Regions from separate parts of the Homo sapiens genome. Here region 2 is linked to region 1. Evidence: fine-mapped expression QTL. A gene starts in region 1. The other region holds a variant in brackets. All regions are shown on one strand. Distances are between the middles of the regions. Region 1 holds the start of ABCG2 (ATP binding cassette subfamily G member 2 (JR blood group)). Region 2 has its middle 48 kb from the start of ABCG2.

Evidence for each region.
Region 2: its variant is fine-mapped to the expression of ABCG2 in testis (GTEx, PIP 0.99).

Annotation. Positions count from the first base shown.
Region 1 is chr4:88,151,444-88,167,444 of GRCh38, forward strand. ABCG2 (ATP binding cassette subfamily G member 2 (JR blood group)) reads right to left here and starts at 7,196. Exons shown (of 16, transcript NM_004827.3): 1 at 6,943-7,196. It overlaps LOC124900867, which reads right to left and starts at 8,113. Exons shown (of 2, transcript XM_047416558.1): 1 at 8,027-8,113; 2 at 6,943-7,639. The coding sequence starts at 8,113. The coding sequence ends at 7,130. It also overlaps the pseudogene RPL31P24. RefSeq lists silencers at 7,263-7,482, 11,254-11,548.
Region 2 is chr4:88,198,602-88,214,602 of GRCh38, forward strand. It overlaps a transcript of ABCG2 not described here, the pseudogene RNU6-818P and the pseudogene RNU6ATAC31P. Among named protein-coding and RNA genes, the nearest start is that of ABCG2, 48 kb to the left of the region's middle. The variant G/A (reference allele first, on the strand shown) is at 7,586.

The DNA of each region.
Region 1 (16,001 bases):
AATTATGAACAGAGGCTGGGTGCAGTGGCTCATGCCTGTAATCCCAGCACTTTGGGAGGCCGAGGCAGGTGGATCACGAGGTCAGGAGATCAAGACCATCCTGGCTAACACGGTGAAACCCCATCTCTACTAAAAATACAAAAAAGTAGCTGGGCGTGGTGGAGGGGCGCCGGTAGTCCCAGCTGCTGGGGAGGCTGAGGCAGGAGAATGGCGTGAACCCGGGAGGTGGAGCTTGCAGTGAGCCGAGATGGCGCCACTGCACTCCAGCCTGGGCGACAGAGTGAGACTCCATCTCAAAAAAAAAAAAAAAGAATTATTAACAGAAAATTAAATGTGAGCAGCGGCATTACTTCTCAAAATTCTGAGACCTACAATAAAAAACATCATGATCCAGTATACAAAGATATAAAAGAAGGAGCATGTAATGTGTGTGTACTCCAAAATCATAGAAGGGCTCATTAATTATTGCAAGGGATCCTCTCTCTAATCCACGGGTACAGTTACCATCTCAGACCAAATAATGTCTCATCATAAACACAGTACTTCTTCATTGCTAGTATGACTAACATAAATATGGGTCTCAAATCCTTTTCTCACTGTGAATTCAATCAACAGATACCAAAATTATAATATTAGGATGTAGTTTAAGCTACTCAGCTAATAAAATGATCCTGGTTTCTTACCAGAGCCTAATAGATAGAAGCTCACATATGCATTATTTGTTTTGGAAGCACTGGCAGGGTTTCATTTGAGAAAAAAATGGGAGCTTTAAAAAATTACTAAATACTACCAATTTTACTTCTTTCCCATAAGAGACTGAATCCAAGTTGGCAAATACAGTCAGGTCCTCTATAATGTTTAAACTTTAAGGCAATATGAATTTTCACTCGCGTCCGTGTGAAGAGACCACCAAACAGGCTTCGTGTGAGCAATAAAGCTTTTTAATCACCTGGATGCAGGCGGGCTGAGTCCGAAAAGAAAGTCAGCAAAGGGAGATAGGGATGGGGCCATTTCATAAGATTTGGGTAGGTAAAGGGTAAAGGGGGTTTGTTCTCTGGTGGGCAGGGGTGGGGCGTCACAGGGTGCTCAGCGGGGGAGCTTTTGAGCCAGAATGAGCCAGGAGAAGGAATTTCACAAGGTAATGTCATCAGTTAAGGCAGGAACAGGCCATTTTCAGTTCTTTTGTGGTGGAATGTCATCAGTTAAGGCAGGAACCAACCATCTGGATGTATATGTGCAGGTCACAGGGGATATGATGGCTTAGCTTGGGCTCAGAGGCCTGACATTCCTGTCTTCTTATATTAATAAGAAAAATAAAACAAAATAGTGGTAAAGTGTTGGGGTGGTGAAAATTTTTGGGGGGTGGTATGGAGAGAGAATGGGTGATGTTTCTCAGGGCTGCTTCAAGTGGGATTAGGGGCGGCGTGGGAACCTAAAGTGGGAGAGATTAAGCTGAAGGAAGATTTTGTGGTAAGGGGTGATATTGTGGGGTTGTTAGAAGAAACAATTGTCCTATATAAGTATTGGTGATGGCCTGGATACAATTTTGTATGAATTGAAAAAAGAACGGAATAAGACAAGGAGAAAAACAGGTATTAAAGGACTAAGAATTGGGAGGACCCAGGACATCCAATTAGAGAGTGCCTAAGGAGGTTCAGCATAGCCCTGCCAGCAAAGATGATTTATTTACTTTAAGAGTTGAGAGTGGCGGTTTGGGGATAGCACCAGGAGATATCAGCTGTGGTGGCTTGGAGAAACAGTGTAAACCGGCAGTGTAAACAAGAGCGGGCATGTATGAGTAGTTGAGAATGGTGAATAGGAGTATGACTAGACAGAAGATAGTAGGGATGACAAGTTTTTGGGGGCGCAGTCCAAGTTGGTCTGGTGTCTGGAATGAGACTGGGGCCTAATAAAAAGGAGCATCTATACAGGAGCTCAAATGGGCTGTATTTTGTCGCATTCCGAAGACAGGCCCGAATTCTGAGAAGGGCAAGTGGTAAAAGTATTATCCAGTCCTTTTTAAGTTGGTGGCTGAGCTTGGTGAGGTGTGTTTTTAAAAGACCAGTAGTCCGTTCTACCTTTCCTGAAGATTGAGGATGGTAAGGGATATAAATGTTTCACTGAATACCAAGAGCCCGAAAAACTGCTTGGCTGATTTGACTAATAAAGGCCGGTCCTCTATTGAACCGTATAGAGGTGGGAAGGCCAAACCAAGGAATTATGTCTGACAGAAGGGAAGATATGACCGTCGTGGCCTTCTCAGACCCTGTGGGAAAGGCCTCTACCTATCCAGTGAAAGTGTCTACCCAGACCAAGAAGTATTTTAGTTTCCTGACTCGGGGCATGTGAGTAAAGCTAATTTGCCAGTCCTGGGCAGGAGCAAAACCCCGAGCTTGATGTGTAGGGAAGGGAGGGGGCATGAGAAATTCCTGAGGAGTAGTAGAATAGCAGATGGAACACTGAGAAGTGATTTCCTTGAGGACAGATTTCCACGATGGAAAGGAAATGTTCTAAGAGGCAGGCTAGCGGCTTGTAACCTACATGGAAGAGGTTATGAAATGATGACAGAATAGAATGGGCCTGTGAGGCTGGAAGGAGATATTTTCCTTGGTCTAAGAACCATTTGCTTTGTGTGGGAAGAGATTGATAGGTGGAAGTTTCAGTGGGGGAGTAGGTGGGAGTGACCAATGCGAAGAAGAAAAACTGACCCTGAGGGACAGAAGTTGGAACACTAGTTGCTTTTTTAGCTAACTTATCAGCATAAGCATTGTCCTGAGCGATGGGATATGATACCTTTTTGATGGCCCTTGCAGTGAATGACTCCAGCTTCCTTTGGAAGTAAAGCGGCTTTGAGAAGCGTTTTTATTAAAGAAGCATTAATGATAGAGGACCCTTGTGTAGTGAGGAAACCTCTTGCATAGTGGTGCAGGATATGGAAGGCATATTTAGAGTCAGTATAAATATTGATGTGTAGTCCCTTTGCAAGAGCAAGGGCTTGACTTCAGGCAATGAGTTCGGCTTGCTGAGCGGTAGTGGAGGGGGGCAGAGTGGTAGCCTCAATGATAGATGTGGAAGATACTATAGCATAGCCTGCCTTTGCTGGTGAGTGGCAATTAGGACTGGTGGAACTGCCATCAGTAAACCAAGTGTTCAGGGTGAGGAACAGGAAAGAAGGAAATATGCGGAAATGGGGTGAATGCCCGGTGGATCAGAGAGATAGTCATGGGGGTCAGGTGTGGTATCAGGAATAATGTGGGAGGCCGGATTGAAGTCTGGGCCAGGAACAATGGTAATTGTGGGAGACGCAACAAAGAGTGAGTATAGCTGGAGGAGCCGGGGAGCAGAAAGTATATGTGTCAGGTGTGAGGAAGAAAATAGATTTTGGAAGTTATGAGAGCTGTAGAGAGTGAGTTGAGCATAGTTTGTGATTTTGAGGGCCTCTAAAAGTATTAGGGCGGCGGCAGCCACTGCACGGAGACATGATGGCTAGGCTAAAACAGTAAGGTCAAGTTGTTTGGACAAAAAGGCTACAGGACGCGATCCTGGTCCTTGTGTAAGAATTCTGACTGCACAGCCCTGCACTTCGGCTGTGTGTAATGAAAAGGGTTGGGATGAGTCAGGGAGAGCTAGGGTGGGGGGCAGTCTCTAAAGCTGTCTTGAAGGAATGGAAAGAGGAGTGGGGAAAGGATTTAGGATCTATGGGGTCAGCTAGGTTTCCTTTTGTGAGTTTATATAATGGCTTTGTTAGGATGGCGAAACCAGGTATCCAAAGTCGAAAGTATCCAACCATGCCTAGGAAGGAAAGGAGTTGTTTTGTAGAAGGTGTTGGGGTTTGAGAGATCAGTCAGACACGATTGGCAGGGAGAGCACGTGTGTTTTTATGAAGAATTATGACAAGATAGGTAACAGATGAGGAAGAAATTTGGGTTTGACTGAAGTAATGGGGGCTGTCTGTGAAGCCTTGAGGCAGTACAGAGCCAGGATGAGCCAGAAGGAGGAATTTCACAAGGTAATGTCATCAGTTAAGGCAGGAACCAGCCATCTGGATGTGTAAGTGTAGGTCACAGAGGATATGATGGCTTAGCTTGGGCTCAGAGGCCTGACACCAATCTTTTCAGACTTAGCATTTGCTAAGTCACAAACTTTTTATTATACATAAAAAGTTCAAAAGTAACTCTAGGCCGGGCACGGTGGCTCATGCCTGTATTCCCAGCACTTGGGGAGGCCGAGGCGGGTGGATCACCCAAAGTCAGGAGTTCGAGACCAGCCTGGCCAACATGGCAAAACCTCGTCTTTACTAAAAACATTAAAAATTAGCTGGGCGTGGTGGCACATGCCTGTAATCCCTGCTACTCAGGAGGCTGAGGCAGGAGAATTGCTTGAACCCAGGAAGCGGAGGAGGTTGCAGTCAGCTGAGATCCCACCATTGCACTCTGGCCTGGAGCAAGACTCCATCTCAAAAAAAAAAAGAAGTAACTCTAATAGAACATCCAGTGTCCAGATATTAGCTTCTAATACCATTCTAAAGCAAAATAATCACAGTGCCTTGGAGAAATGGATCATTCCAAGGTTGGGACATGGAAAATACAAAATAAGCCTGAGCATTCTCTGATGCCAGAAATCAAGAAATGCATTAAAAAAGAAAAAGAGTCCGGGCATGATAGCTCACACCTGTAATCCCAGCACTTTGGGAGGCCGAGGCGGGCAGATCACTTGAGGCCAGGAGTTTGAGACCAGCCTGGCCAACATGGAAAACCCCGTCTCTACTAAAAAATACAAAAAGTAGCCAAGTGTGGTGCTACGTACCTGTAATCCCAGCTACTTGGTAGGCTGAGGCACAAGAATCGCTTGAGCCTGGGAGGCGGAGGGTGCAGTGAGCCGAGATCGTGCCACTGCACTCCAGCCTGGGCGACAAAGACTCCGTCTCAAAAAAAAAAAAAAAAAAAAAAGAAGGAAAAAGAAAAAGCAAGTGTATGTCAAAGTGGCACAGGCGCCAACCTGAAAAAGGTCCCAGTGGTGAAAGCCAGAACAATTTGAGCAGCAAATTAAATACTGATAATATTGGATTATAACCCATATAACAAAACAAATATCCATGAGCCCATACTGATACAAATAACTGAATCAATGAACAGGAGAGAAGGGTCAACTCTTCCCTACAGAAGGGAATTTTAATTAAAAAATGTAGAAGGAAGAAAATAGGGGTTTTGTTTAACCATTAGGAAAAAAAACCCGCTAAACAACATGTTCCACAAATGGATGCTTAAATTAATGAATAAAAGTTTAAGGAAAAATGGCAGTGCAGGTTTCTCTCCCAAGATCTCAAATACAAAGGGAATCTGGCAAACAGATTAACATCATAGGTAATAAGAAGTATCGGCTAGGGCACAGTGGCTCACGCCTGTAATCCCAGCACTTTGGGAGGCCAAGGCAGGAGGATCACTAGAGGTCAGGAGTTCGAGACCAGCCTGGCCAACATGAAACCTGTCTCTACTAAAAATACAAAAAATTATCTGGGCATGGTGGCAGGCGCCTATAATCCCAGCTACTCAGGAGGCTGAGGCAGGAGAATCGCTAGAACCTGGGAGGCAAAGGTTGCAATGAGCTGAGATCGTGCCACTGCACTCCAGTCTGGGCAATAAAGCAAGACTCAGTCTCAAAAAAAAGTATTGACATCATGTACCCAATATGACATACTGAGATGGAAACTTTACTTCTGTGACATTTTTCCCCAAAATGCAGAACATTCATCTAATCATGACACTAAACATCAAGCAAACACAAATTGAGGGGCATTCTACAAATTAACTGACCGGGTCTTCTTCACTAGTGTCAAGGTCCATGAAAAAACAATGAAAGGCTGAGGAACTGTCACAGATCAGAGAAAATTAAGGATATTTAGCAGTTAAATGCAAAGTGAGATCATCGATTGGATCCTGGGCAGAAAAAGGACAGTGGAAAGACAAGTGAAATCCAAATAAAGTCTGTAGTTTAGTTCATTGTATTATAGTAGCATGCCCATGTTATTAGTTTTGGCCCTTGTTATGCATGATATTATGGGAACTCTCTGTACTATTTTTTGCAAATTTTCAGTAACTCTCAAATTATTTCACAATTAAAAGTTATTATAAAATAAATAATAAAATAACCAACATCTTTCAATGTTTATAATGGAAGGGTAATGTTAGACTTAACATGCCATCTTTGTCGTTGAAACCTTTCTCATCAAGATCTCATCAAGATCTATACAATCCAGTCAAAGCTGTACTCTGAAAGCACTGTTTTGTAAAGAATATCAATAAAAAACATCTCTTCCTTACTACTCTGGTGTATTTATTTATGACTAGCTGACATTCAAATGATAAGAGAGCTGTAAGATCCTCCTAAAAACCAAGCTTTAGGGGATATCTCTAGGACTGAGAAGGGAGTAAGAGCACTCAACTATCCACAGAAAATTACAAAAGGGAGTTCAATAATTCTTTAGCAAACCATCCAAAGCTTTAAAGGGATTGACCAATAATTTGTCATTTACCTATTCCCAATTGTCATTGACCAATTCCTATATTGGTCAACCCCTTTAAAATATTAACATCAACAAATGTTTCCTCCACCTATAGTAACTTCTGTGCTCAGTGGGTTTTTATCCTTCCAATATCAACTTTAATTTCATACATTTGGAGAAAGGCCAAGAGTTTTTACCAACCCACACTTAACACACTATGGGACCCAGAATCAGTTTGCACCAGGGCATCATTTTCTGAAAAACCACTTTGAACTGTCAGTTTTAAACTGCATACCCACTTTCAAATGAAACTGCGAAAGGCTAAAAAACTCAGTCGTCTCGTTTGAACGGTTACCGATTTTCTAACAAATATATACACAACGCCCACCAACCTTTCCAGACACACACTCTCAGCGAAACTGGTTTTACAATTTACTCACTCAGCTTAATAGAGCTCGGTCTTAACCAAAGGCTCAGGATCTCAGGATGCGTGCGCTCGGAGGCAGCGCTTTAACAATTAAGGATGTAAATGTTGGGATGAGTCACCCGGACCTTCCAAACAAACTCTAAAGCAGCAGTTTCCACTTAACAAGACCACCAAGCATGTGCACGGTGCGTTCCTAAATCCTACCCAGTTCCTCCACAGGCTGCCTCCTTGCCGCGTCTCTCAATCTCAGTGGGAGTGGCGGGCACTGCCTCTTCCCTCCTGCGCGCCCGGAACCTTTTGAGTGGGCACAGCACGCAGCCCGCGCGCGGCACAACCCCTTCCCCCAACCACACCCGGCGCGCCCGAGCGCTCCCCTCGCGCGGCGGCCGGCGTGGGAGGCGCTGCGGCTGGAGGTCACGATGGGAGCCGGCGGGTGGCCGCCTGGGGAGACCCGGACATCCAGGGGACGAGCTCAGGCAGCGCTGACACGAACTTCCTAAGCCGCGCTTCGGGCTGTGGACCGCCAGAGCTGAACGCAGTGGCCCCTCCCCAGCGCCCCGGGTTTCCCCAGGTCGGGGTTCGCGGGCGGGGGTGAGGCGTGGCCCCGACTGCCGGGCCGCGATAAGCGCCCTGCGACCCGGCTGAAAGCGCACACGTGTCCTGCCGCGCTGAGCCGCCAGCAGGACTGGTACCACCGCCCTCCCTCGGGGCTAGGGTCACCCTGCCGTGACACGCAGGGACAAGCCAAACACTCCCGCCTCCGGGATCGAACGGAATGAACCAGAGTGATTAACTACGAGAATCACCAGGCGCTCATTGGGCTGATCAGTACCTCGTCTGACCTAGCTGGGTTTGGTCGCCGTCACTGGCCGGAGCGCCGAAGCACCGGGGACGCTGACGCACAGGTTGCCCAGTCACAAGCGCTGCTCGCACCCAGAGCAAGTTAAATGGGTGGTTTCTGGTGAATGGGATTCTGAGAAAGTGGATGCTTGCGCCCCAGGGCCTAAAAAAATCAGGCACTGAATCTAACCCAAGGAAGGAAAGGGGAGAAACTTACTGAATGAAAATATTACCATAGTTTAAATGTTATTCTTTACACTCCTGTGACTGACATACTTCTGTGCAATATTCCGATGGTGTGGAAAGGCTAGAAAGTGATTGCGCATGTTCAGGAAACGGGCCATCAGGCTTTGTGAGTGTAGCCATCCCAACATCTACCTGCTGCATCTACCCTAGGAAATTAGTACCTGCATGCAGATATTTTCTGGTTTGCATTTACAAACAAAAATCATAGTATCATTTAAGTTGTTTAAATCAACACTAGGAATAACTATTAATGGTTCACCCAATGCAGGAAAGTTTTAGCTAGGAAGCCTAGATAAGAAAATTGACTATACATAATTTTTTAAAAAGAATTTTAAATATACCATACCGCATGCTTTTTAAAAGAATTTTAAGGTATATATTCATGATGCGCCCAAACATTTGGGTAAAATTATTCTTTTGAATTAATTTCTGTCAGTTTCAAGACCCTTAAAGGCCCATATAGAAATACATGTTAGTCATACTTCATTTTAAGACAAAATTAAGGCCAGCACGGTGGCTCATGCCTGTAATCCCAGCACTTTGGGAGGCTGACGCAGGCAGATCACTTGAGGCCAGGAGTTCGAGACCAGCCTGGCCAACATGGTGAAACCCTGCCTCTACTAAAAATACAAAAGTTAGCTGGGTGTGGTGGCGAGGCTGTAATCCCAGCTACTCGCGAGGCTAAGGAACAAGAAGCGCTTGAACACAGGAGGCAGAGGTTGCAAATGACCCGAGATCCCACCACTGCACTCCAGCCTGGGCCACAGAGTGAGACTCTGTCTCAAGAAAAAAAAAAAAATTAAGATAAAGTTTTCAGACCTGGCCGTTAACGACTGTTTGCAAAAACTGAAAAATCTCCGAAAAATAAATTTTATTTTAATTTTCTTTTTAGCTCACCCAGATAAGTGAAAAGAATAAAATTTTATGATACCAGAAAAAATGAAAACATTTCCAGCAAGATCTGAAGGCACTACAGGAGGAGACTGAACAAAAATGGAGAAAACACACACGAAACTGATATGAAGCACATTTTTAAAAATGGATACTTAGTTGAATATAGCATTCTGTAATTATGCAAAGTAAAAACAAATCAAAACCCTATACATAGAGGCCAGGCACGGTGGCTCACGCCTGTAATCCTAGTACTTTGGGAGGCCGAGGCAGGTGGATCACCTGATATCAGGACTTCAAGAGCAGCCTGGCCAACATGGTGAAACCCTTCTCTACTAAAAATACAAAAATTAGCCGGGCATGGTGGCTCATGCCTGTAATCCCAGCTACCCAGGAGGCTGAGGCAGGAGAATTGCTGGAGCCAGGGAGGCAGAGGCTGCAGTGAGCCAAGATCATGTCACTGCACTCTAGCCTGGGTGACAACGTGAGACTCCATCTCAAAAAAAAAAAAAAAAAAAAAAAACCTATACATAGAAAATTGCTGGGCAAGGAGTGACAGCTCACTCCTGTAATCCCAACACTTTGGGAGGCAGAGGCCAAAGAATTGCTTGAGCCCAGGAGTTCAAGACCAGCCTGGGCAACATACTGAGACCCTATCTCTACAAAAAAAAAATATTTTAAATTACACTGGGTGTGGTGGCTTACACCTGTAATCCCAGCACTTTGGGAGGAGGCCAGAGGATTGCTTGAGCCCAAGAATTCGAGACAAGCCTAGGCAACACAGGGAGCCCCTGTCTCTACAAACAATTTTTTTTTTTAATTTTTTTTTTTTTTATTATACTCTAAGTTTTAGGGTACATGTGCACATTGTGCAGGTTAGTTACATATGTATACATGTGCCATGCTGGTGCGCTGCACCCACTAACGTGTCATCTAGCATTAGGTATATCTCCCAATGCTATCCCTCCCCCCTCCCCCGACCCCACCACAGTCCCCAGAGTGTGATATTCCCCTTCCTGTGTCCAAGTGATCTCATTGTTCAATTCCCACCTATGAGTGAGAATATGCGGTGTTTGGTTTTTTGTTCTTGCGATAGTTTACTGAGAATGATGGTTTCCAATTTCATCCATGTCCCTACAAAGGACATGAACTCATCATTTTTTATGGCTGCATAGTATTCCATGGTGTATATGTGCCACATTTTCTTAATCCAGTCTATCATTGTTGGACATTTGGGTTGGTTCCAAGTCTTTGCTATTGTGAATAGTGCCGCAATAAACATACGTGTGCATGTGTCTTTATAGCAGCATGATTTATAGTCCTTTGGGTATATACCCAGTAATGGGATGGCTGGGTCAAATGGTATTTCTAGTTCTAGATCCCTGAGGAATCGCCACACCGACTTCCACAATGGTTGAACTAGTTTACAGTCCCACCAACAGTGTAAAAGTGTTCCTATTTCTCCACATCCTCTCCAGCACCTGTTGTTTCCTGACTTTTTAATGATTGCCATTCTAACTGGTGTGAGATGATATCTCATAGTGGTTTTGATTTGCATTTCTCTGATGGCCAGTGATGATGAGCATTTCTTCATGTGTTTTTTGGCTGCATAAATGTCTTCTTTTGAGAAGTGTCTGTTCATGTCCTTCGCCCACTTTTTGATGGGGTTGTTTGTTTTTTTCTTGTAAATTTGTACAAACAATTTTTTAAAAATTAGCTGGATGTGATGGCACATGCCTGTGGACCTAGCTATTTGGGGGGCTGAGGTGGAAGGATTGCTTGAGCCCCGGGGTTCAAGGCTGCAGCGAGCCATGATCAGAGTGAGACCCCACTCTAAAGAAAAAGAGAAAGAAAGAAAATAGCAGGAAAGTGTTCATTTGTTCTGGGTAGTAACATGGAATGTCTTTTATCTTGTATTTTAGTGTAATTTTCTAAATTTTATGTAACAAATTTAGAAAATTATAAATTTTATAATGAAAAATGGATTTTAAAAGTAAAATAAACTGATAAAATATACATATAAAGACACATGACAATAGAGTCCTCACTTGAAATAGGACTAAAACTAAAAAAAAGTTTCCTTAATTTTAGTCTAATTTTAAAAATATTTTAGATTGTGATGTTTCATATTTATAGGTCGGTTTATTTGCTAACTAAAGTTACATTGGGAGGCAGTGGTAAATCAAATAAAAATTCAAAATAAAGTTTTATTAGTTCCTAACCTCATCCTAATATTTTATCAAATTCTATTTGATAAGTTCAGATTAAAGCCAGCATTTTATAAATGTATTGCACTGTATAGAAATGAGTCATTTTAACTTGTAAGTTAGCATTGTTTTTGGAGCTAGCCATAGAATTTTAGAGAAAAAGGACCTTCCTCATTAGGTCAGATGTTAGATGACTTTCCTCATTTTACAGATAAGTCACCAGTGCAAAGGAGACTGATTTGCACAAGGTTAAAGGTTAAGTGACTCACAGCCTTCCAAGCCATTGCCCTCTGCCCTCCACCACAGGACCTTTCTTTTATTTTACCAGGCAAGAGTCACTGCCCAGTATTTATAAGGCCCCATATTGAGACTCCTGCTGAATGCCTGTGCACCAGTTGCAAAGAGCTGGTAAGGCCCCAGTATGCTACATTTCTTAGTGCTTACTCCAAAGGTGAACTCCAGAATTGTCAATTTTCCCTGGCAAGGTCAGGTTTCAGACAGGATTCACCATGGGCCTGGGGACATTTGGGTTACATATATAACAGATGTATTCAGTCCGAGTATATCTATTTTCATTACCACTCCAAGTTAAGAAAATAACAGTGGAAGAGAGGCTATGTGCACAGTATTCCCCCACAGCCCAGCTCACAGCTATCAGGGCCTTTGACTAATATGGCAAGAGAAAGTTCAGTCTATAATGGTGCAAACAGTTATTGTAAATAAAATAATGGAAACAGTTTAAAACTCTTCCTAAAGATTTCAGTATAAAAGGAAGGTGAGAGAAAGGAATATAGCTAGAGGCTATCTTAGGGTTCAGAGAAAATATTCATTTGGTTTGAATTAGACAGACTAGAACATGTGTGCATGCCAAGAGGACAAGCCATAAAGAAAGAAAGGGTTATTGGTAGTGTCAGGTCCCTTAGGAAGCATAATGAAATGGGATCCAGAGGAATTAGAATTAGAAAAGAAAAGGAAACTTAAGAATCCCTCACGCTCTTCTTTTCCAAATTGGGCCAGGCAGAATGGCTCCTGCAAAGAAAAGCGGCGAGAAGAAGAAGGGCTATTCTGCCATAAACGAGGTAGTGACCCAAGAATAAGCCATCAGCATTCACAAGCGCATTCATAGAGTGGGCTTCAAGAAGTGTGTCCCTGGGGCACTCAGAGAGATCCGGAAATTTGCCATGAAGGAGATGGGAACTCCAGATGTGTGTGTTAATACCAGGTTCAACAAAGCTGTCTGGGCCAAAGGAATAAGGAATGTTCCATACCGCATCTGTGTGCAGTTGTTCAGAAAATGTAATGAGGGTAAAGAATCACCAAACAAGCTCTATATTTTGTTACATTCCTGGTTACCTATATACTTGTTACCATTTTCAAAAATCTGCAGATAGTCAATGTGGATGAGAACTAACCACTGAGCATCAAATACATCAAATAAGTTATAAAATTGCCTTTATATATTTTTTTTAAAAAGGAAATTGATATGGTTTTGCTGTGTCCCTACCCAAATCTCACCTTTTTTTTTTTTGAGACGGAGTCTTGCTCTGTCACCCAGGCTAGAGTGCAATGGTGTGATCTCAGCTCACTGCAACCTCTGCCTTGCGGGTTCAAGCGATTCTACTGCCTCAGCCTCCTGAGTAGCTGGGATTACAAGCACTTGCCACCATGCCTGGTAATTTTTGTATTTTTAGTAGAGACAGGGTTTTGCCATGTTGGCCAGGCTGGTCTCGAACTCTTGACCTCAGGTGATCCACCACCTCGGCCTCCCAAAGTACTAGGATTACAGGCGTGAGCTACGGCTCCCAGCCCATCTTGAATTGTACTTCCCATAATCCCCACGTGTTGCGGGAGGGACCTGGTGGGAGGTAATCGAATCACAGGGGTAATTATTCCTATGCTGCTGTTCTGATAGTGAGTTCTCACGCGCTCTGATGGTTTCATAAGGGGCTTTTCCCCTTTTGCTCGGCACTTCTCCTTCCTGCCGCCATGTGAAGAAGGATGTGTTTGCTTCCCCTTCTGCCATGATTGTAAGTTTCCTGAGGCCTCCCTAGCCAGGCTGAACTGTGAGTCAATTAACCTCTTTCCTTTATAAATTACCCAGTCTCGGGTATGTCTTTATTAGCAGCATGAGAACAGACTAATACAGAAACTTTTTAAAAAATTGTAACAAAAGGGAAGGAAGTTGGATGTATCCTCATGGAGGTAAATGGATTTTTTGTTGTTGTTGTTGTTTGTTTTTGAGACAGAGTCTCACTCTGTTGCCCAGGCTGGAGTGCAGTGGCACAATCTCAGCTCGCCACAACCTCCACCTCCTGGGTTCAAGCAATTCTCCTGCCTCAGCCTCCCAAGTAGCTGGGATTACAGGCATGCATCACCATGCCTGGCTAACTTTTGTATTTTTAGTAGAGATGGGGTCTCACCATGTTGCCTCAGCTGGTCTTGAACTCCTGGCCTCGAAGGGATCTGCCTGCCTTGGACTCCCAAAGTGCTGGGATTATAGGTGTGAGCCACCACATCTGGCCGAGGTAAATGTTTTAATTAGAGAAAATTGAAATAAATATCTGGCCCATAACTATACTTTCTCTCTGAAGTTGATGGATGTGCTGAGGGTATGGGTGTGAATGGCTGATTTGGGATTTGGAAAAATGATGAATATTTGAATAGACTTCTATTCGTTTTCTATTGCTGCCATAACAAATAGCCACAAACTTAGTGGTTTAAGACAACACAAGTATATTACATTTCTATGGGTCAGAAGTCTAAAATGGGTCTAGTGGTCTAAAATCAAAATGTCAGCAGGTCTGTGTTCCTTTCTGGAACCTTTTCAATCTTGTAGAGGCCACCTGCATTCCTTGGCTCTTGGCCTCTTTCTCCATCTTCAAAGCCAGCAGCATAGCAGCCCTGTGACCCTGCTTCTGTCATCACATCTTTGATTTTCTTCTGCCTCCCTCTTCCACCTTTAAGTATTGTTATTACAATAGGCCCACTGGGTAAGCCAGGATAATCTCCCTATTTTAAAGTTATTTGGGCCAGGTACATTCATCTGGGCAGGCTCACGCCTGTAATCTCAGCACTTTGGGAGGCCGAGGCGGGTGGATTACGAGGTCAGGAGTTCAAGACCAGCCTGGCCAACATAGTGAAACACTGTCTCTACTAAAAATACAAAAATTAAGCGGGCATGGTGGCATGCGCCTGTAGTCCCAGCTACTCGGGAGGCTGAGGCAGGAGAATCGCTTGAACCCGGGAGGCGGAGGTTGTGGTGAGCCAAGATTGTGCCACTGCACTCCAGCCTGGGCAACAGAGTGAGACTCCATCTCAAAAAAAAAAAAGAGAGAGAGAAAATCATTAGATTAACAATCTTCATTTCATCTGGAACCTTAATTCTCCTTTGCTAAAGTAACCTATCATTCACATTCTAGGGAATAAGACATGGACACCTTTGAGAGGCCATTTTTCTGCTCACCACAAGGCCCCAAGGAAATGGAAGAGGATGCTAATGGAGGGACCCACTGGCACCCACTGAGTTGGTATGAAGAGTATTTTAAACTGAAACATTTAAGACACAGCAGATACAGAAAGAAGCCTTTCTGGAGCTTCCCTTATTTGACTAAAGCCAGAGCTTTCAGAGAGTGAAGCTGCCATAAATTCCCTCTTGGGGAGCTTCACTGCCAGTAAGGAGACTTTACTGCCAGGAAGGAGACCACTTGCACCTGAATGACGAATTGCATAACCGAACATAATCACAAATTGTCGTACCATCATTTGTTTCCCTAAAAGCCCATTTGTCTTTCCACAAAAGTATATTTGCTTTCCCATAGAACCCTTTCTCTCCTCCTCCCTTTTCCCATATTATTGGCATATAAATTCTCATCCCTAACTGTACAGAGAGCCTCTTCACCTGAGTAAGTGTAAATAAACCTTGTCTATTCTCCTGTTAATCCATCTATTGCCAATTAATTTACAGGCCCCCAAGCACTGGACCTAAGTTGGCAGAGGAAGTTTTTCCTCCCAACACTAATATGAGACATAGAGCTCGCACAGCAACACCAAGGCCCCTACTACTTGGGATGGGACTCTGTAAACAGTGGTTTGAAAGCTGCAAATGGGCATGGCTTTCTCATTCACAAAGATGTGAAGGTAAAGGGTTAGATAAATTCTAGGGTACAGTTTTGTTGGGTGGGTAAGGCAATAGAAAGATGAAGCAAAGGAGTCATGTGAGTGAAGTGATTCATCATCATAGGAAAGCGAAGCCAGGAATAGACAGAGAGAAAGAAAGTACATGGAGGGGTCACATGCAGATGGCAAAAGTTGAAACAGGAGGATCAGGTCACTGAGTGGGATACTGGCATTTAATATTCACATTCCAGGTTTTGATAAGGTCCCACGGTTTGAACACGAGAGTGAGGTTATGGAAATGGAAGGGAAGTGTATTTGTTTTCTATTGCTTGAGTAACAAATTACCATCAAGTTAATGTCTTAAAACAATACCCATTTATTATCTCCCAATTGTGGAGGTCAGAAGTCTAGGCTAGGTTAGGCTTTGCTCAGGGTATCAACAGGCCAAGTCAAAGTGTCAGCCAGCTGAAATGAACTCTTAGCTGGACACTCTTCTCTAAAGAACCAAGCAGAGTAAGGTTGTTGGCAGAATCCATTTCTTTTTGGTTCCAAGACTGAGTTTCCTGTGTCCTTGCTGAATGTCAACCAGGGGCACCCTCAGCTCCTCTTGGCTGCCTGCATTTCTTCCCATGTGGCCCCTCCACTTTCAAAACAGTTTGAGTCCTTCTCAAACTTTGAACCCAACTGTCCCTTCTGCCTTTTTTTTTTTTTTTTTTTTTGAGATGGAGTCTCGCCCTGTTGCCCAGGCTGGAGTACAGTGGCACAATCTCGG
Region 2 (16,001 bases), 47 kb after region 1:
CAGCCTGGGTGACAAAGGAGACTATGCCTCTAAAAAAGAAAAATAAATAAATGAAAGCTCCAATGGATAAAGTAGATGGCATGTAATAAGACAGATGGAAATTCTGAGAAAGAGTCAAAAAAATGCTAGAGATTAAAAACACTATGAAGATTGCCATTCATGAGCTTACGGGTTGACTAAACATAGCTGAAGAAAGATACTCTGAGCTTGAGGATGTCCAGTAGAAACTGAAAAGCAAAGAGAAAAAAGACCCAAAAAAGGGGGAGCAAAATATTCAAGAACTGTGGGGCAATTATAAAAAATACAGAAAGAGAGAAAGGAACAAAAACTATATATGTATATGTATATATATGTGTGTGTGTATATATATATATATTTTATTTTTGAGACAGAATCTCGCTGTGTCACCCAGGCTGGAGTGCAGTGGCGCAATCTCAGCTCACTGCAAGCTCTGCCTCCTGAATTCAAGTGATTCTCCTGCCTCAGCCACCCTAGTAGCTGGGATTACAGGCTCCTGCCACCACACCCAACTAATTTTTGCATTTTTAGTAAAGACGGGGTTTCACCATGTTGGCCAGGCTGGTCTCAAACTCCTGACCTCAGGTGATCCACCCACCTCAGCCTCCCAAAGTGCTGGAATTACAGGCGTGAGCCACTGCGCCTGGCCAAAAACAATATTTGAAGCAATTATGAACTGACAGTTTCTCCCAAATTAATGTTAGATACCAAACTACAGATTCAGGAAACTCGAAGAATACCAGGAAGAATAAATCCTAAGTAAATTACACATAGGTATATCATATTCAAACTACAGAATATCAAAGATAAAGAAAAAATCTTCAATGAAGTCAGAGGGGAAAAATATTCTTAACTATAGAGAAACAAAGATAAGAATTACATCTGACTTATTAGAAACCATGCAAGCAGGAAGAGAATGCAGTATATTTAACATGTTGGTAGAAAAATACCACCAACTTAGAATTCTGTATACTGTGAAATTTCCCTTCAGATTTAAAGAAGAAATAGACTTTCTCAGACAAATAAACGTCAGAGGAATTTGTTGTCAGTACATTTGTCTTGCAGAAATGTTTTTTAAAAGTTATTTTACTTTATTTAGGCCGGGCGCAGTGGCTTACGCCTGTGGTCCCAGCACTTTGGGAGGCTGAGGCGGGCGGATCACAAGGTCAGGAAATCGAGACTATCCTGGCGAACACAGTGAAACCCCGTCTCTACTAAAAATACAAAAAAGATTAGCCGGGCGTGGTCGTGGGTGCCTGTGGTCCCAACTACTCCGGGAGGCTGAGGCGGGAGAATGGCGTGAACCCGGCAGGCAGAGCTTGCAGTGAGCAAGATCGCGCCACTGCACTCCAGCCTGGGCGACAGAGCGAGACTCCGTCTCAAAAAAAAAGTTATTTTACTTTATTTTATTTTTTAAATAGAAGGCCCGGCATGGTGGCTCATGCCTGTAATCCCAGCAATTTGGGAGGCTGAAGTGGGCAGATCACTTGAGCTCAGGAATTCAAAACCAGCCTGGGCAACATGGCAAAACCCCATCTCTACTAAAAATACAAAAAATCAGCCAGGTGTGGTGACGCACACACTGGTAGTCCCAGCTACTTGGGGGGCTGAGATGGGAGGATCACTTGAGCCTGGGAGGTCAAGTCTGCAGTGAGCCCTGATCATGCCTGTGCACTCCAACCTGGGCAACAGACTGAGACTCTGTCTCAAAAAACAAACAAACAAAAAAATTGGAGACAGGGTCTCACTATGTTGGCCAGCCTGGTTTGGAAATCTTGGCCTCAAGTGATCCTCCCACCTCAGCCTCCCAAAGTGCTGGGATTACAGGCATTGGCCACCATGTGTAGCCAAAAGATGTTCTTCAAAGAGAAGAAAATTGTTAAAGATCAGAAAATCAATAAAGGTCAGAAAATGAAATCTACATAAAGAAAGGAGAACATTAATGTGCAGTGGTGGGATCTTGGCTCACTGCAAGGTCTGCCTTCTGGGTTCATGCCATTCCTATGCCTCAGCCTCCAAAGTAGCTTGGACTACAGGTGCCTGTCACCACGCCTGGCTAATTTTTTGTGTTTTTAGTAGAGACAGGGTTTTACCATGTTAGCCAGGGTGGTCTCAATCTCCTGACCTGGTGATCCACCTGCCTCAGCCTCCCAAAGTGCTAGGATTACAGGTGTGAGCCACCGTGCCCAGCCTATTTTTCTTATTCTTAATTGATCTAACAGATAACTGGTTAAAATAATAATAGCAACAATATACTCAATTGTATATGTAGAAATTTTGAACTAAATAAAAATGAAAATATAATTAACAAAATTTGTGGGATGCAGCAATTGCAATAAAAGGGAAATTTATGTCATTGGAAACATATATTAGAAAAAAAAGACAAATCCAAAATCAATAATGTGTACTACCACCTTGGAAAACTAGAAATAGAAGAGTAAATTAAAGACAAATTAAGCAGAAGAAAAGAAATAATAAAAATCAGAAAAAACATGAAACTGAAAATCAATAGAGAAAATTAACAAAAAAACAAAAGCCGGTTATTTGAAAAGATCAATAAAATTTATAAGTCTCCAGTTGCACTAACTGCAAAAAAAAAAAAAAAAAGAGAGAGGACATAATCACTAATATCAGAAATAAAAAAAGTAGACATTACCTGGTTGGCCCTGTCAGTAAAAGTTTTTTTAAAAAAAGAGTGGACATCACTTAAAGACCCCACAGACATTGAAAGGATAGTAACAAAACTATTCTCACGAATTTGATAACCTAGATGAAATGGACCAATTCCTTGAAAGATGCAATCTGCCAAAATTCACACACACAAATTAGACAATCTGTAAAGACCCAGGATTATTTTAAAAATTGAATCAATAATTAATAAACTTCCAAAACAGAAAGTCCCTAGCCCCAGATAGATTCACTGGCAAATTATATCAAACATTGAAAGAAGCAGCTGTACAGTTCTTTGTAATCTCTTTTAGGAGACAGAAATAGAGGGAATACTTCCTAACTCCCTAGCTACTCAAGGACCAGGGAGGACTATTGTGGGCTTCACCTGGGAGCTGGTTAGAAATGCAATATCTGTGCTTGCTTTGAGAGCACATATACTAAAATTGGAACAATTCAGAGAAGATTAGCACGGCGCCCTACACAAAGATAATACACAAATTTGTGAAGTGTTCCCTATTTAATAAAAACATATTTTTTAAAAATGCAGAATCTTGTGCCTCAGCATAAGCCTACACTCAAAACCTGCAAGTTCATCAAGATCCACAAGTCATTCATATGTACATTAAGTGTTAAGAAGCACTGGTCCTCAACCTATCTGCATACTGGAGTCTCCTGGAAGAAATTCTGATTTAATTGGTATGAGTGTGGCAGGGCTTTGGGATTTTTTAAAGCTCCCCAAGCAATTTAAAATTCAGCAATATCTAAAGAGAGGTCTTAGAAGCCAAGATCACAAAATGAATATCGGTGAAGTATCATTTTGCTTACCTCAAAGGGCCTTATCAATGGCACTATTCCATGGGCTGCCATCCAACCTGCTACTAATGGATAAAGTCCCATAATGCCCCATGTCAACTTTCGGCCAAGAAATTTGAGAGTCTAGGCGTTATGTGATGACTCACATCTGTAATCCCATCACCTTGGGAGGTCGAGGCAGGGGGACTGCTTGAGGCCAGGAGCTCAAGACCAACCAGTGCAACATAGGAGGACCCCATCTCTACAATTATTTATATATATATATATATATATATGTATATTTTAATTAGCTGGGCATGGTAGTGTTGTAGGACTTTCTCCTTAAGGTCCTTGTCACACAACCAGGAAAGATTAGGCTTGCAGACACTTTGAAAGGTGAGAAAAATGGAATTTATTGCGTGAAAAGGAGAAAGGGGAAACAGAGACTCTAAGCAAAGTGAGAGTTCTGCTAGCTGGTCTCTCACCTCACAGATTGAATCACAGGTTACCACCCGGGAACAGGAGCGTCCAGGCTCCTCCCCACTGCAAAGGGCTCAAACTTCCCATGGCTCCACCCCGTTCTCCCAGTGTACAGGCTGGTCAGAGGTTCTCCGGGGACCCCTTTATACTTGGCTGTCTCAGTAGTACACACCTGTAATCCTAGCTACTCAGGAGGCTAAAGCAGGAGGATCACTGGAGCCCAGGAGTTGGAGGTTACGGTGAGCCTTGATCACACCACTGCACTCCAGCCAGGTCAACAGAGAGGGACCCTGTCTCTAAAAATAGTAAATAAATAAGAAAATAAATTCGAGAGATTATATTTTTAGAAATATTTGTTTCAGTAGTTTAGTAGCACAGAACTTTCTGTACTTTACCTTTTCTCTTTCCCTTCCACCCAAATTCTTTACACTAATAGGGTAGGTTTCCATTTAAATAGATGTAAATTAATTAATTAAAAATGTTTTATTAGCCTGCTATTATGCCACAAATTATACTTTAATTTAATGAAACTAGTGTTCAGCACAATGCCAGTTTAATGGGGTTCCAACTTAAAACCAATAAAGCATTGAGGGTAATTCAAAACATTGTATTGCAAATTACTAAGAACTGGAGAGGTGAGAAGAGAGTGGGGGATGGAATTGAGGATGAGGCGAAAAGATGAAAGAACTGAGGGAAAGACCAGAGAAAGGAATACTCTCCTGTTCTTTTTGCTTTTGTAAACTGTTAATGACAAGTGGATTCTAGTAGCTGAATTCAATGATCCAGGGCCCCAGCAAACTGACAGTCATGGCTGGTTTCCATAGTTAACAACATGTAGAACTATTTCTTCAAAGAGGTTTAATTAGAATGTTCGAATATTGGAGCTTAAATATAACTGGAGAGCTTTGCCTAAGAAACTTAAACTCAGGCCAGGCGCGGTGGCTCATGCCTTTAATCCCCGCAGTTTGGGTCACCTGAGGCCACGAGTTCGAGACTAGCCTGGCCAACATGGGGAAACCCTGTCCCTACTAAAAATACAAAAATTAGCTGGGCGTGGTGGTGGGCGCCTGTAATCCCAGCTACTTGGGAGGCTGAGGCAGGAGAATCGCTTGAACCCAGGAGGCAGAGGTTGCAGTGAGCTGAGATCGTGCCATTGCACTCCAGCCTGGGTGACAACAGCGAAACTCAGTTTCAAAAAAAAAAAAAAAAAGAAAGAAACTTAAACTCATGTTTAAGACTTTCCTTAAACATGAGAAGGCAAAAGGCAACTACATTTTTCTGATATTATCGGAATAAAATTATTCCAGTGGCACAATATTTTTTTTTTACAGATTACCCTGAAATACTTACTCTCTACTTTTGTACCAGAAAATCTTAAAGCCACAGCTGGACCAAAGGTATGCCAGCTCCAAACTTTAAAAGAAAAGGTAACTCTTTAAATATAATTATTCCTTTTTGATCACTTTGCAAATTTTCTCTTTCCTCTTCCATTTCTCTAGTTTTCTTTTCTTCAAGTAGGAAATGATTTTGTTTGCTTTGCAAAGACCTAACACACCTCAGCTGTAAAGAATTCAAGCCGGCCGGGCTTGGTGGCTCATGCCTGTAATCCCAGCTCTTTGGGAGGCTGAGGCGGGCAGATCACGGGGTCAAAAGATCGAGAATATCCCGGCCAACATGGTGAAACCCCGTCTCTAGTAAAAATACAAAAAATTAGCCGGGCGTGGTGACAGGCGCCTGTAGTCCCAGCTACTCGGGAGGCTGAGGCAGGAGAGTCGCTTGAACCTGGGAGGTACAGGTTGCAGTGAGCCGAGATCGTGCCACTGCACTCCAGCCTGGTGACAGAGCAAGACTCCATCTCAAACAAACAAACAAACAAACAAACAAAAGAATTCAAGCCAGGCAGTTGTCTGCTGCAGAGCATATAATATTGATGATATATGTTTAGGGTCCCATTTGGACATGGAGAATAACTTTGCTATAGATATTCAATATAACCAAGAGCATAGGCATAAAATACTCACTCACAGTTGCCAATAATTCCAAGTGTATGCACAAGTTTTGCACATCTTCAGTATATTTTAGATCCTAGATCAGTTAGCCTTACTTGGTAATGCAAGAAAGCTTCATTTTATTTTATTTGTTCTTTTGCCTTAAAATAAAGGGAAATAGTTGGCAGTGTTTTAAAGGAATAAGAAGACTGGTTGCTTTTGGCAGAAGGGAATTTGTCATTCTCTCCATCAGAGAAGGATTAATTGTATTGTTTTGGAGGCAGTGGGGATTAGGATGGGAATATTTGAATTTCATTATTAGAGTAGGTGTATAAAATATACTTGTATAAAAATATACTTGAAACTAAAGTCCTATGCTGTCAAAAGATTTGCCATTTAAGTGCAAAATATGTTTGCAAATCCCACAAAACAGGAAGACCAGACTGTCTTGAACAACTTGCTCAGTGTCTTGAGAGTACTGCCAATTCTTACTCTTGGCTTTGTTTTCTGAAAGCTGCTTCCTCTTTGGCTAGGAGCTGTTCACCTTTTCCTGAAGTACGTCTACCAACAGGGGCACACTAGGAAATGTCTAATGAATTCCTGTAGTTTTATTTCCTTCAAATTCCACTGGCAGAGAACTTCACAGTGTGGTGAAATCACTAAAGATGTTAGTACTTGGGCTTTTCCCTACAAAATCATTGAAAAGTCTTCCAAACACTCCAGCAGATTGCTCTTCCAAGTCTCAGGACAGTCTTAATCTTAATCTTAAAATGCATAGCATTAAACCTCTAAGATATGTGTTCCAATTATGTTTTGAATTATGTTTTGAAAGTTGTTTTCTCTGAAAAAGTAGGGATCTAAACTTTTCTTTTCACACTACCTTTCTATATACACACAGACTCCAACTAACTTGGCATTAAAAATAAAAACTATAATATAAATGACCCATAGATGTACACTTTATTCTGAAAACTTACCATTCTGTTCCACTTTCATAAAGTTACTCTTATCCTTTGCATGTGGTCACCAGTCCCATCAGTTCTTCCTTTACAATGTTTGAGGAATCTGTCTCTCTCCATAACCTCTAACCTTACTTTATCTTAGCCCTTTATCATTTTATCTTTTATTTATTTATTTATTTATTTATTTTTGAGACGGAGTCTTGCTCTGTCGCCCAGGCTGGAGTGCAGTGGCGCGATCTCAGCTCACTGCAACCTCTGCCTCCCGGGCTCAAGCAATTCTCCTGCATCAACCCCCAGAGTAGCTGGGACCACAGGTGCACGCCACCACACCCGACTAATTTTTGTATTTTTAGTAGAGATGGGGTTTCCCCATGTTGGCCAGGATGGTCTCGATCTCTTGACCTCATGATCCGCCTGCCTCGGCCTCCCAAAGTGCTGGAATTACAGGCGTGAGCCACCACGCCCAGCCACCATTTATCATTTTATATCTGGGCTGTCTTCCAAGCTAGTCTCTGCCGACAATACTTCGTTCTCTAATCCAATCTAAACTGTCCTGTACCCTGTCTCCAGTATAATCTTTATTCTAGAACTATCAAACTCTTTCTTCATATTGTTGCCTGTTGAAAATCTGCTAGTTCTTCTCCCAACTGAAAGAATCAAGTCCTGGCCAGGCGC[G/A]GTGTCCTGTAATCCCAGCATTTTGGGAGGCCAAGGTGGGAGCTTTGCTTGAAGCCAGGAGTTCAACACCAGCCTGGGCAATACAGAAAGACCCTGTCTTAAAAAAATAAATGAATCAAGTCCAAACTCCTGACCCTTAGAAGCACGGCCACCACATCCTGATACTACACAGCCTTTTTCCACTCTTTTTCTTCTTTTTTTAAAAATTTTTTTGTAGTTGTTTCATTGAAAAAAATAAAATAAAAATGATAGTTGGATGCCATGAAGTAGGTGGCAATGCCTTAACTGTGTGCTTGTTGTCAGGCCCGAGGGCCTCTTCCATCCTTGTCAAGAGAAGTGTTAACCTTCTGTCCTTTCATACAACACTCCCCACTCTTCTTTTCTAAGACAGCTAGGCATCTCATAATCATGCCTCTTATTTTCTCACTTCCATCCTTCGTTCACACACTTGCTACTCATGCCGTTCCCCGTTGTCATATTTTTAAATCCAATGTATTAATTTTAATACCTAGATCCAGGCCCACCTTCTCCATGAAGTGTTTCTTCACTACCACTCTAGCCCACAGTGGTCTCGTCTTCCTTTGAGCTCTTAACATTTATTCTTGAAACAACAAACCCAATAGTCCCATAGATTGGTGCATTTACAAAACTTTAGCTAGACACAGAGCGCTGATTGGTGCATTTACAATCCTTTAGCTAACAGAAAAGTTCCCCAAGTCCCCACCCGACCCAGAAGCCCAGCCAGCTTCATCTCTCACCACCACAGCCCAGGTAATTTGCGTATTTTCAGTAGAGACGGGGTTTCACCATGTTGGCCAGGCTGCTTTCCAACTCCTGACCTCAGGTGATCCACCCGCCTTGGCCTCCCGAAGTGCTAGGATTACAAGCGTGAACCAATGTGCCCAGTCTCAAAGCAGTGCATTTTTATGCATAACAAGTATTTACTGCTTTACTTGAGACCCCTGCCACACTCTTCATAATCCAATGGAGAAATCTCTAGAACATTAAAGAATATTAAAAGACTAGAAAGACGAGCTTTTATTAACTTTTTCTGGGCTTTTAACACTACAGAGTTACCAGCTATTACATGAGTTCAATTGGACTTCCTACTTACTGATTTTTTTTAAATAACATTTTAACATTATCATCAGAGGCAGACTCTGTAAAGTGGTATAATATGGTTTCCTGTGACGTGGCATAAACAGGTCTACATCCTAGTCTCCTTTTTAACTGAAATCTTAGTGATATGAAACTGTGGACAACTGGAAAAGAAGTCTTTCTGTTCGAGGACAAGAAATCTGCTATTGGGTGCTGAGATATATTAAATTTGAGCTTTTTTGATCTCCTCGAGGGATATTTTTCTTTTTCTTCTCTTCAGACAGAGTCTTGCTGTGTCACCCAGAGCTGGAGTGCAGTGGCATAATCTCAGCTCACTGCAGCCTCGAACTCCTGCATTCAAGCAGTCCTCCTGCCTCAGCCTCTCTAGTAGGTGAGACTATAGGCATGCCCCAGTATACCTGGCTAATTTTTTTATTTTTAGTAGAGACGAGGTCCCACTATGTTATGCAGGCTAGTCTCGAACTCCTGAGCTCAAACAGTCCTCCCACCTGAGCCTCCCAAAGTGCTGGAATTACAGGCATAGCCACCGCACCCAACCTCATTTTGTTTTTTTCAATATCCCTGTCAGGGCACAATGAAGGATATTTTTGTTGGCTGAAAAGTCTATTCAAATGTTCATGTGAATTTTAGAAATCAATATAAGATAACTAAAGTTGTAAATTTAAGACTCTGCTTTTTCTTAGGGCTGTAAATTCAGTTTACAAATACTGTTGCTCTATCAGTAGGTGTAGCAAATTTCAGTATTCACTTCCAAGGAATCTCTCAATAATGGTTTGGTCCAATTTACAATCTTAGTTCATTAAACATTTCCAAATACTTTAAACTGTACTTGGAAGTTTAAAACATCCAGTTCTTTAGAGTGTCATTGGGATTGCCCTAGACCACCTCCATGTTCAGAGATTCACCGAAACAATTTACATAATTCAGTATATATAATCATTCTACTCATAGCTAAGATTTATTACTATTACAACAATGTTGCAAGGATACATAGCTGGATGATAAGGGTAAGCTATAGGGAGAGTCGGAGAAATCCATGGGCAAGCTTCCTCAAGCTCTCGCCTTCCCATGAAGGGCCACACAGAGCACACACTTCCCCTAGCAATGAAAATGCAACATTTGTGCAATACTTTGGCCCAGGGAACTCTACTAGAGACTTAGGGCCCAAGGTTTTTAGGAGGGCTGGTCGGGTAGATACACTCTGAAACCAAAATTACAGAGTCTCAGAAGGAAAGAAAGCAAGTGTGTGACCCACCCTTATCAGTTAACTGATAACTGGGGACACTGTGAAGCAACTTCCAGATGCTCCCTAAGAATCAAGCTCAAAAGCAGGGCTTTCTAGGGATAGCAGCCTCAAACAGATCTGCTCTGTTAACTTTTTTCTGCATACCAAGGTACTTCCATTTTTTAATTTAAAAAACTGAACTTTCCCAAGTGCTCAATCAACCCAGACAAAGCAAATAAATTGAATCCATAAATATGGCCAACCTAACTTATTTCAAGTGTCCCACTATTTTCTCCAAACTTGTGGTATTGCAACTTTAAATCAAAAGCCTAAATTACTTATTTAATTATAACATTTGAAATTGGACTGACAAAATTGGTCTTAACCAATTAACCTGGGAGGCGGAGGTTACAGTGAGGCGAGATCACACCACTGCACTCCAGCCTGGGTGACAGAGCGAGACTGTCTCAAAAAAAACAAAACAAAACAGTTCATACCTTGGCCAGGTGCAGTGGTTTAAGCCTATAATCTCAGCACCTTGGGAGGCCGAGGCAGTCGGATCACCTGAGGTCAGTTCAATACCAGCCTGGCCAACATGGCGAAACCCTGTCTCTACTAAAAATACAAAAATTAGCTAAGTGTGGTCGCACACACCTACAATTCTAGCTACTCAGGAGACTGAGGCACAAGAATCACTTGAACCAGGGAGGCAGAGCTTGCAGTGAGCAGAGATGGCACCACTGCACTCCAGCCTGGGCGACAGAGCGAGACTCCATCTCAAAAAAAAAAAAAAAAACAAAAAAGCAAACAAGAAACACCAAAAAAAACAAAATAAATAAAAACAAAATTCAGACCGGATGCGGTGGCTCACACTTATAATCCCAGCACTTTCAGAGGCTGAGGCAGATGGATCACCTGAGGTCAGGAGTTTGAGACCAGCCTGGCCAACATGGTGAAATCCCATCTCTACTAAAATACAAAAATTATCCAGGCGTGGTGGTGAGCGCCTGTAATCCCAGCTACTCAGGAGGCAGAAGAATCGCTTGAACCTGGGAGCCGGAGGTTGCAGTGAGCTGATGTCATGCCACTGCACTCCAGCCTGGCTGGGTGAGAGCAAGACTCTGTCTCAAAAAAAAACAAAAAACAAAACAAAAACAAAAAACAAAGTTCATACCTCTTTCTATAAGTAAAAAATAAAAATTTTAAGTGAAAGAAAATTTTTCAGTTTGATTAGCAGGGGTTGTGTTGGTGTTGGCAATGTTATATAAAATAATAAGTAATGATAAGTTTTAGATTCAAGCTACGTGGTAGTAGCAATATACTGTGCTTTTCCTTTGCCAAAGATAACCTAAAGATAAAACTAATAAACAGAATCTTCTCTGCTATTCACCATTTTCCCCAGTTGTCAGTTATTTTTGACTGAATACGTTTTTTGCTTTTGTACCCTAGTGGTAGATCACTCTTTGAATGCATCTTAAAGATGTGTCCTATAAAACAAAACAAAACAAAACACCCTAAGCATCCTGTATAAGACTATTACCTTGTGGGTATTCCTACAGGTGTAGAATGCTCATGCACATATAAGTTGGTAATAAAATGTTTTGATTGAATTAGATATAATTAGGTTAAAGATGTCAGTAATGTAAGTAATCCTACACACACACACACACACACACACACACACACACACATATACATATATACGTTTAAGACAGTGCCTCTCTATGTTGCCTAAGCTGGACTGGAACTCCTGAGCTCAAGCAACCTTCCCACCTCAGCCTCCAGTGGCTGGGACTGGAGGCAGGCACCATTGTGCCTGGCTAGTAATGCAATATTTTTGTGTTCGTTGAAGGAGAGTAAAATAAATTGTAAAATCTATTTGTAGTTTATTTTGAAATGCTCTCCCCAGCAGCCTTACCTTTGCCTTATTTTCTTGAGGTCCTATTTACATTCATCCCATTCAGTGAGGATGAAGGATGTTGTTCTAAAACAAAAAGAATGGTAGAAATAAGCCCCATATAGTTAAAAGTGTGCTGGTAGCTATAAATACATACTTTTTCTTTTCTTTTTTTTTTTCTAAGAGATGGGATCTTGCTCTGTTGCCCAGGCTGGAGTGCAGTGGTACAATCATAGCTCACTGCAGCCTCAAACTCCTAGGTTCAAGCAATTCTCCCACCTCAGCCCCTGAGTACCTGGGAATATAGGCACTTGCCACCATTAACTGGCTAATATTTTATAGAGACAGTCTTGCTTTGTTGCCCACACTGGTCTCGAACTCCTAGCTTCTTCCCAAAATGCTGGAATGACAGGCATAAGCCACCACACCTGACCCATACATACATTTTTTTCAAGGAATAACAGAAGCCAGAGTTGATTTTATTTGCATTTGTTAAGAAGAGGCGCAGATGCCATGTTCTGCCCCTGTATTCCCAGCTACTCAGGAGAATGAGGTGAGAGGATTTCTTGGGGCCAGGAACTCGAGGCTGTAGTGCCCTGTGACTGCACCAGGGATTAACCACTGCACTCTAGCTTGGGCAACACAGAGAGGCTTGGTCCCTAAAAAAATTAAAAAATAAAAAAAATATATATATATATGTAAAAGAAGAAGAGAGAGTAGTTTGGCTAATTAAGGAGAGGATGTGCTAAACAGGGGACTTAACAAAAGCCACTTTCATTGTGTATTTTAAAAATTATTTTATTTTAGATTCAGGGTTGCACGTGCTTGTTTGTTACATAAGCAGATTGCATACTGGTGGGGACTGAGCTTCTAGTGTACCCAATGTCCAAATAGTGAACATTGTACCTGATAGGTAATTGTTCAACCCCTGCCCCACCCCCCCCCACTTTTGGAGACCCCAGTGTCTGTTATTTCCATCATCATGTTTTCGTTTTAATTTTCTTTTTGAGATGGAGTCTCACTCTGTTGTCCAGGCTGGAGTGCAATGGCGCGATCTCCGCTCACTGCAACCTCCGCCTCCCAGGTTCAAGTGATTCTTCTGCCTCAGACACCTGAGTAGCTGGGACTACCGGAGTACACCACCACACCTGGGTAATTTTTTTGTATTTTAAGTAGAGACGGGGTTTCACTGTGTTAGCCAGGATGGGCTCGATCTCCTGACCACGTGATCCGCTTACCTTTGCCTTCTGAAGTGCTGGGATTACAGGCGTGAGCCACTGTGCCCGGCCGAGAACTCTTTACTTTCAAATGACCAAGATATTTTGGGGAATACAGCAATTCTCTTAACTTGAAGATACAGTCAAACCGGTACTGCACTAAAGGGAAAAACGGGATAAGCAATAAATAGAACTAGAGATGTGGGCCAGAGGGGAAAGTCTTTCTCAAGCCTCTCTTCCAGATAAAATCAAGTTTGGCCATTTTTGTCTTACCTGATTGCAGTCAAAAGCATTTCGAGTGATTTATGGGAATTAGAGCTTTTGGTGCACAGCTAGTTCATTCTTAAATTGCCCATGCTTACATAGTGTAGGAGAAGGTGTGAGTCTATGTCCCAATTTACACATACCGCCCCCAAATAATTATTAGTAGTGGCCTCTTCCTCTCTCAAAAGTATGATTGCCCTAGCTTTAGGTGAAAACCAAAAGTAATCATTTGCTGGACTCTGGCGCCCTCTTGTGATTAAAATTTCACTTTCTGATATTGCTTATTCTGAGATGAGCGACTACCAAAAAATATGAACATCCCAAAGTGGATCATCTAATAACTTTCCCCAGAAGATCTCAGCTTTGAATTTCATGTCATTACACTTTAACACTGACTACCCCTGCATGGTTGCTGCCATCTTCAGATTTCAGAAGCATCTCCCGCCTGTATCAGTAATTGTAGCCCCTGGTACTGTCACTCTCTGTGACACTACTTCTGTCTTAATTCTTGGTGAATTCAGTATCTCCGAAAACGATCTCCCCAGCACTCTGGCCTCTGACTACCTTGAACTTCTCTCCTTCAGTGATCTTGTTCTCCACCCTGCGTTACCTATGTACTTGCAGGTCATGCCATAGAACTTGTAAGCATAGTCTATCTTTCCACCTAAACCCCTCTAATAACCCAACTCCGGCAAACCTTTGACCTTGCTCCACCAGGGCCTAAAACCCATTAATTACACCAGTATTTCACTGTGCCTCACCCCTCACTGCTTTCTTTAGTCACCATACCTGCCGAAATTCCATGATCATTATAATTACATCCTTGCAAATGCCCTCAGCTCCTCTGCTCCCCTTTTGCTTTGTCACTCGCTTGGCAAAACCACAAACCCTACTTAAATTCCTGTCTCCCCTGCTCTGTGCCTGTACCCCTGCAGTTGAACGTGGGTGGAGAAAAACACATAAGAATAATAAATTATTTGATTTTGTGTTTGAATTTTTATTTTTTTTGAGACAGGGTTTTGCCCTGTTACCCAGGCTGGAGAGTGCAGTGGCGAGATCTTAGCCCACTTCAGCCTTTGAACTCTGGGGCCCAAATGATCTTCCCACCTCAGCCTCCTGAGTAGCTGGGACTACCAATGAATGCCACCGCACCCAGCTAATTTTTAAAAATTCTTTGTAGGGACGGGGTCTCACTGTATTGCCCAGGCTGGTCTCAAACTCCTGCGCTCAAGCAATCTTCCCACTTTAGCCTTTCAAACTGTTGGGATTACTGGCTTGAGCCACAAAGACCTGTAATTATCTGATTTTAAATTCTTGATCAAGAATCTCAATGCCGGGACCCTCAGTAATGCCTGACAACTCATACTGTACTTCCCTAGCCCATTCACTCTTCTGTTTCCTATTTCAACACCGAAACATTTTCATCTTTCCCCTCCCATAGTCATTCTCAGATGATAACCTTATGTCCTACTTGACTGAGAAAACTGAAGTAAGTAAAAGAGAACTTCAGATTCTGTTCACCGTATCTGCCCACCCACCTGCATCTGCTGCCTTCTCTCCTATTACCCTACCCTAGAGGAACTGCCCATGTTACTAAGGCCTAAGGCAATGTCTCTACTTTGCATGAAGTCTCATCCCCTTTTTCCTAACTCAATAACAGCACTTTTCCCCTTTCTCTTCTATATCATTGTATATATATGTATATATATGTGTGTGAATATATATATATATTCCTCTCCACTGATTTGTTTCCCCACAGTATAAACATGCTATATTTCTTTTTGTTTGTTTTTGAGACAGAGTCTTGCTCTGTCTCCAGGCTAGAGTGCAGTGGTGCGATCTTGGCTCACTTCAACCTCCGCCTCCCGGATTCAAGCGATTCCCCTGCCTCAGCCTCCGGAGTAGCTGGGACTATAGGCACCTGCCACCGTGCCCAGCTAATTTTTTGTATTTTAGTAGAGATGGGGTTTCACCATGTTGGCAAGGATGGTCTTGATCTCCTGACCTTGTGATCTGTGCCCACTTCAGCCTCCCAAAGTGCTGGGATTACAGCCATGAGCCACCACGCCCGGCCTTTTTTTTTTTTTTTTTTTTTTTGAGACAGAGTCTCATTCTGTCGCCCAGGTTAGAGTGCAGTGGTGCAATCATAGCTTACTGAAGCCTTGAACTCCTGGGCTCAAGTGGTCCTCCTACCTCAGCCTCCTAAGTAAGTGGGACTACAGGCGCATACAACCATGCCTGGCTAATTTCTGTATTTTTTGTAGAGACAAGGTCTTGCTATGTTGCCCAGGCTGGTCTCAAACTCGGGCTCCAGCAGTGTACCCGCCTCAGCTTCCCAAAGTGCTGGGATTACCACCACTAGCCCACTGTTATCTATTTCCCCCATCCTCAAAAATATTCCTCTTGATTCCACATCTTCCAACTACTGCTCTATCGTTTTGTTCTCTTTTACAACAAAACTCTTCAAAAGATACTCACTTCTCCAATCCCTCCCCCATTCTCTCTCAAATCCACTCCAATCAGAACGATGAGACACATGACAAATTGTTTTAAGCCTTTAAGTTTTAGAGTGGTTTGTTAGGTAGGGATAGATAACTGGAACAATATGCCAGAGAGAGCAGTGCAGGTCTTCTCTAGGAGAAGACAGAATCTATATACTAAGAGAGTTGAGCCAGGTGTGGTGGGTCCTGCCTG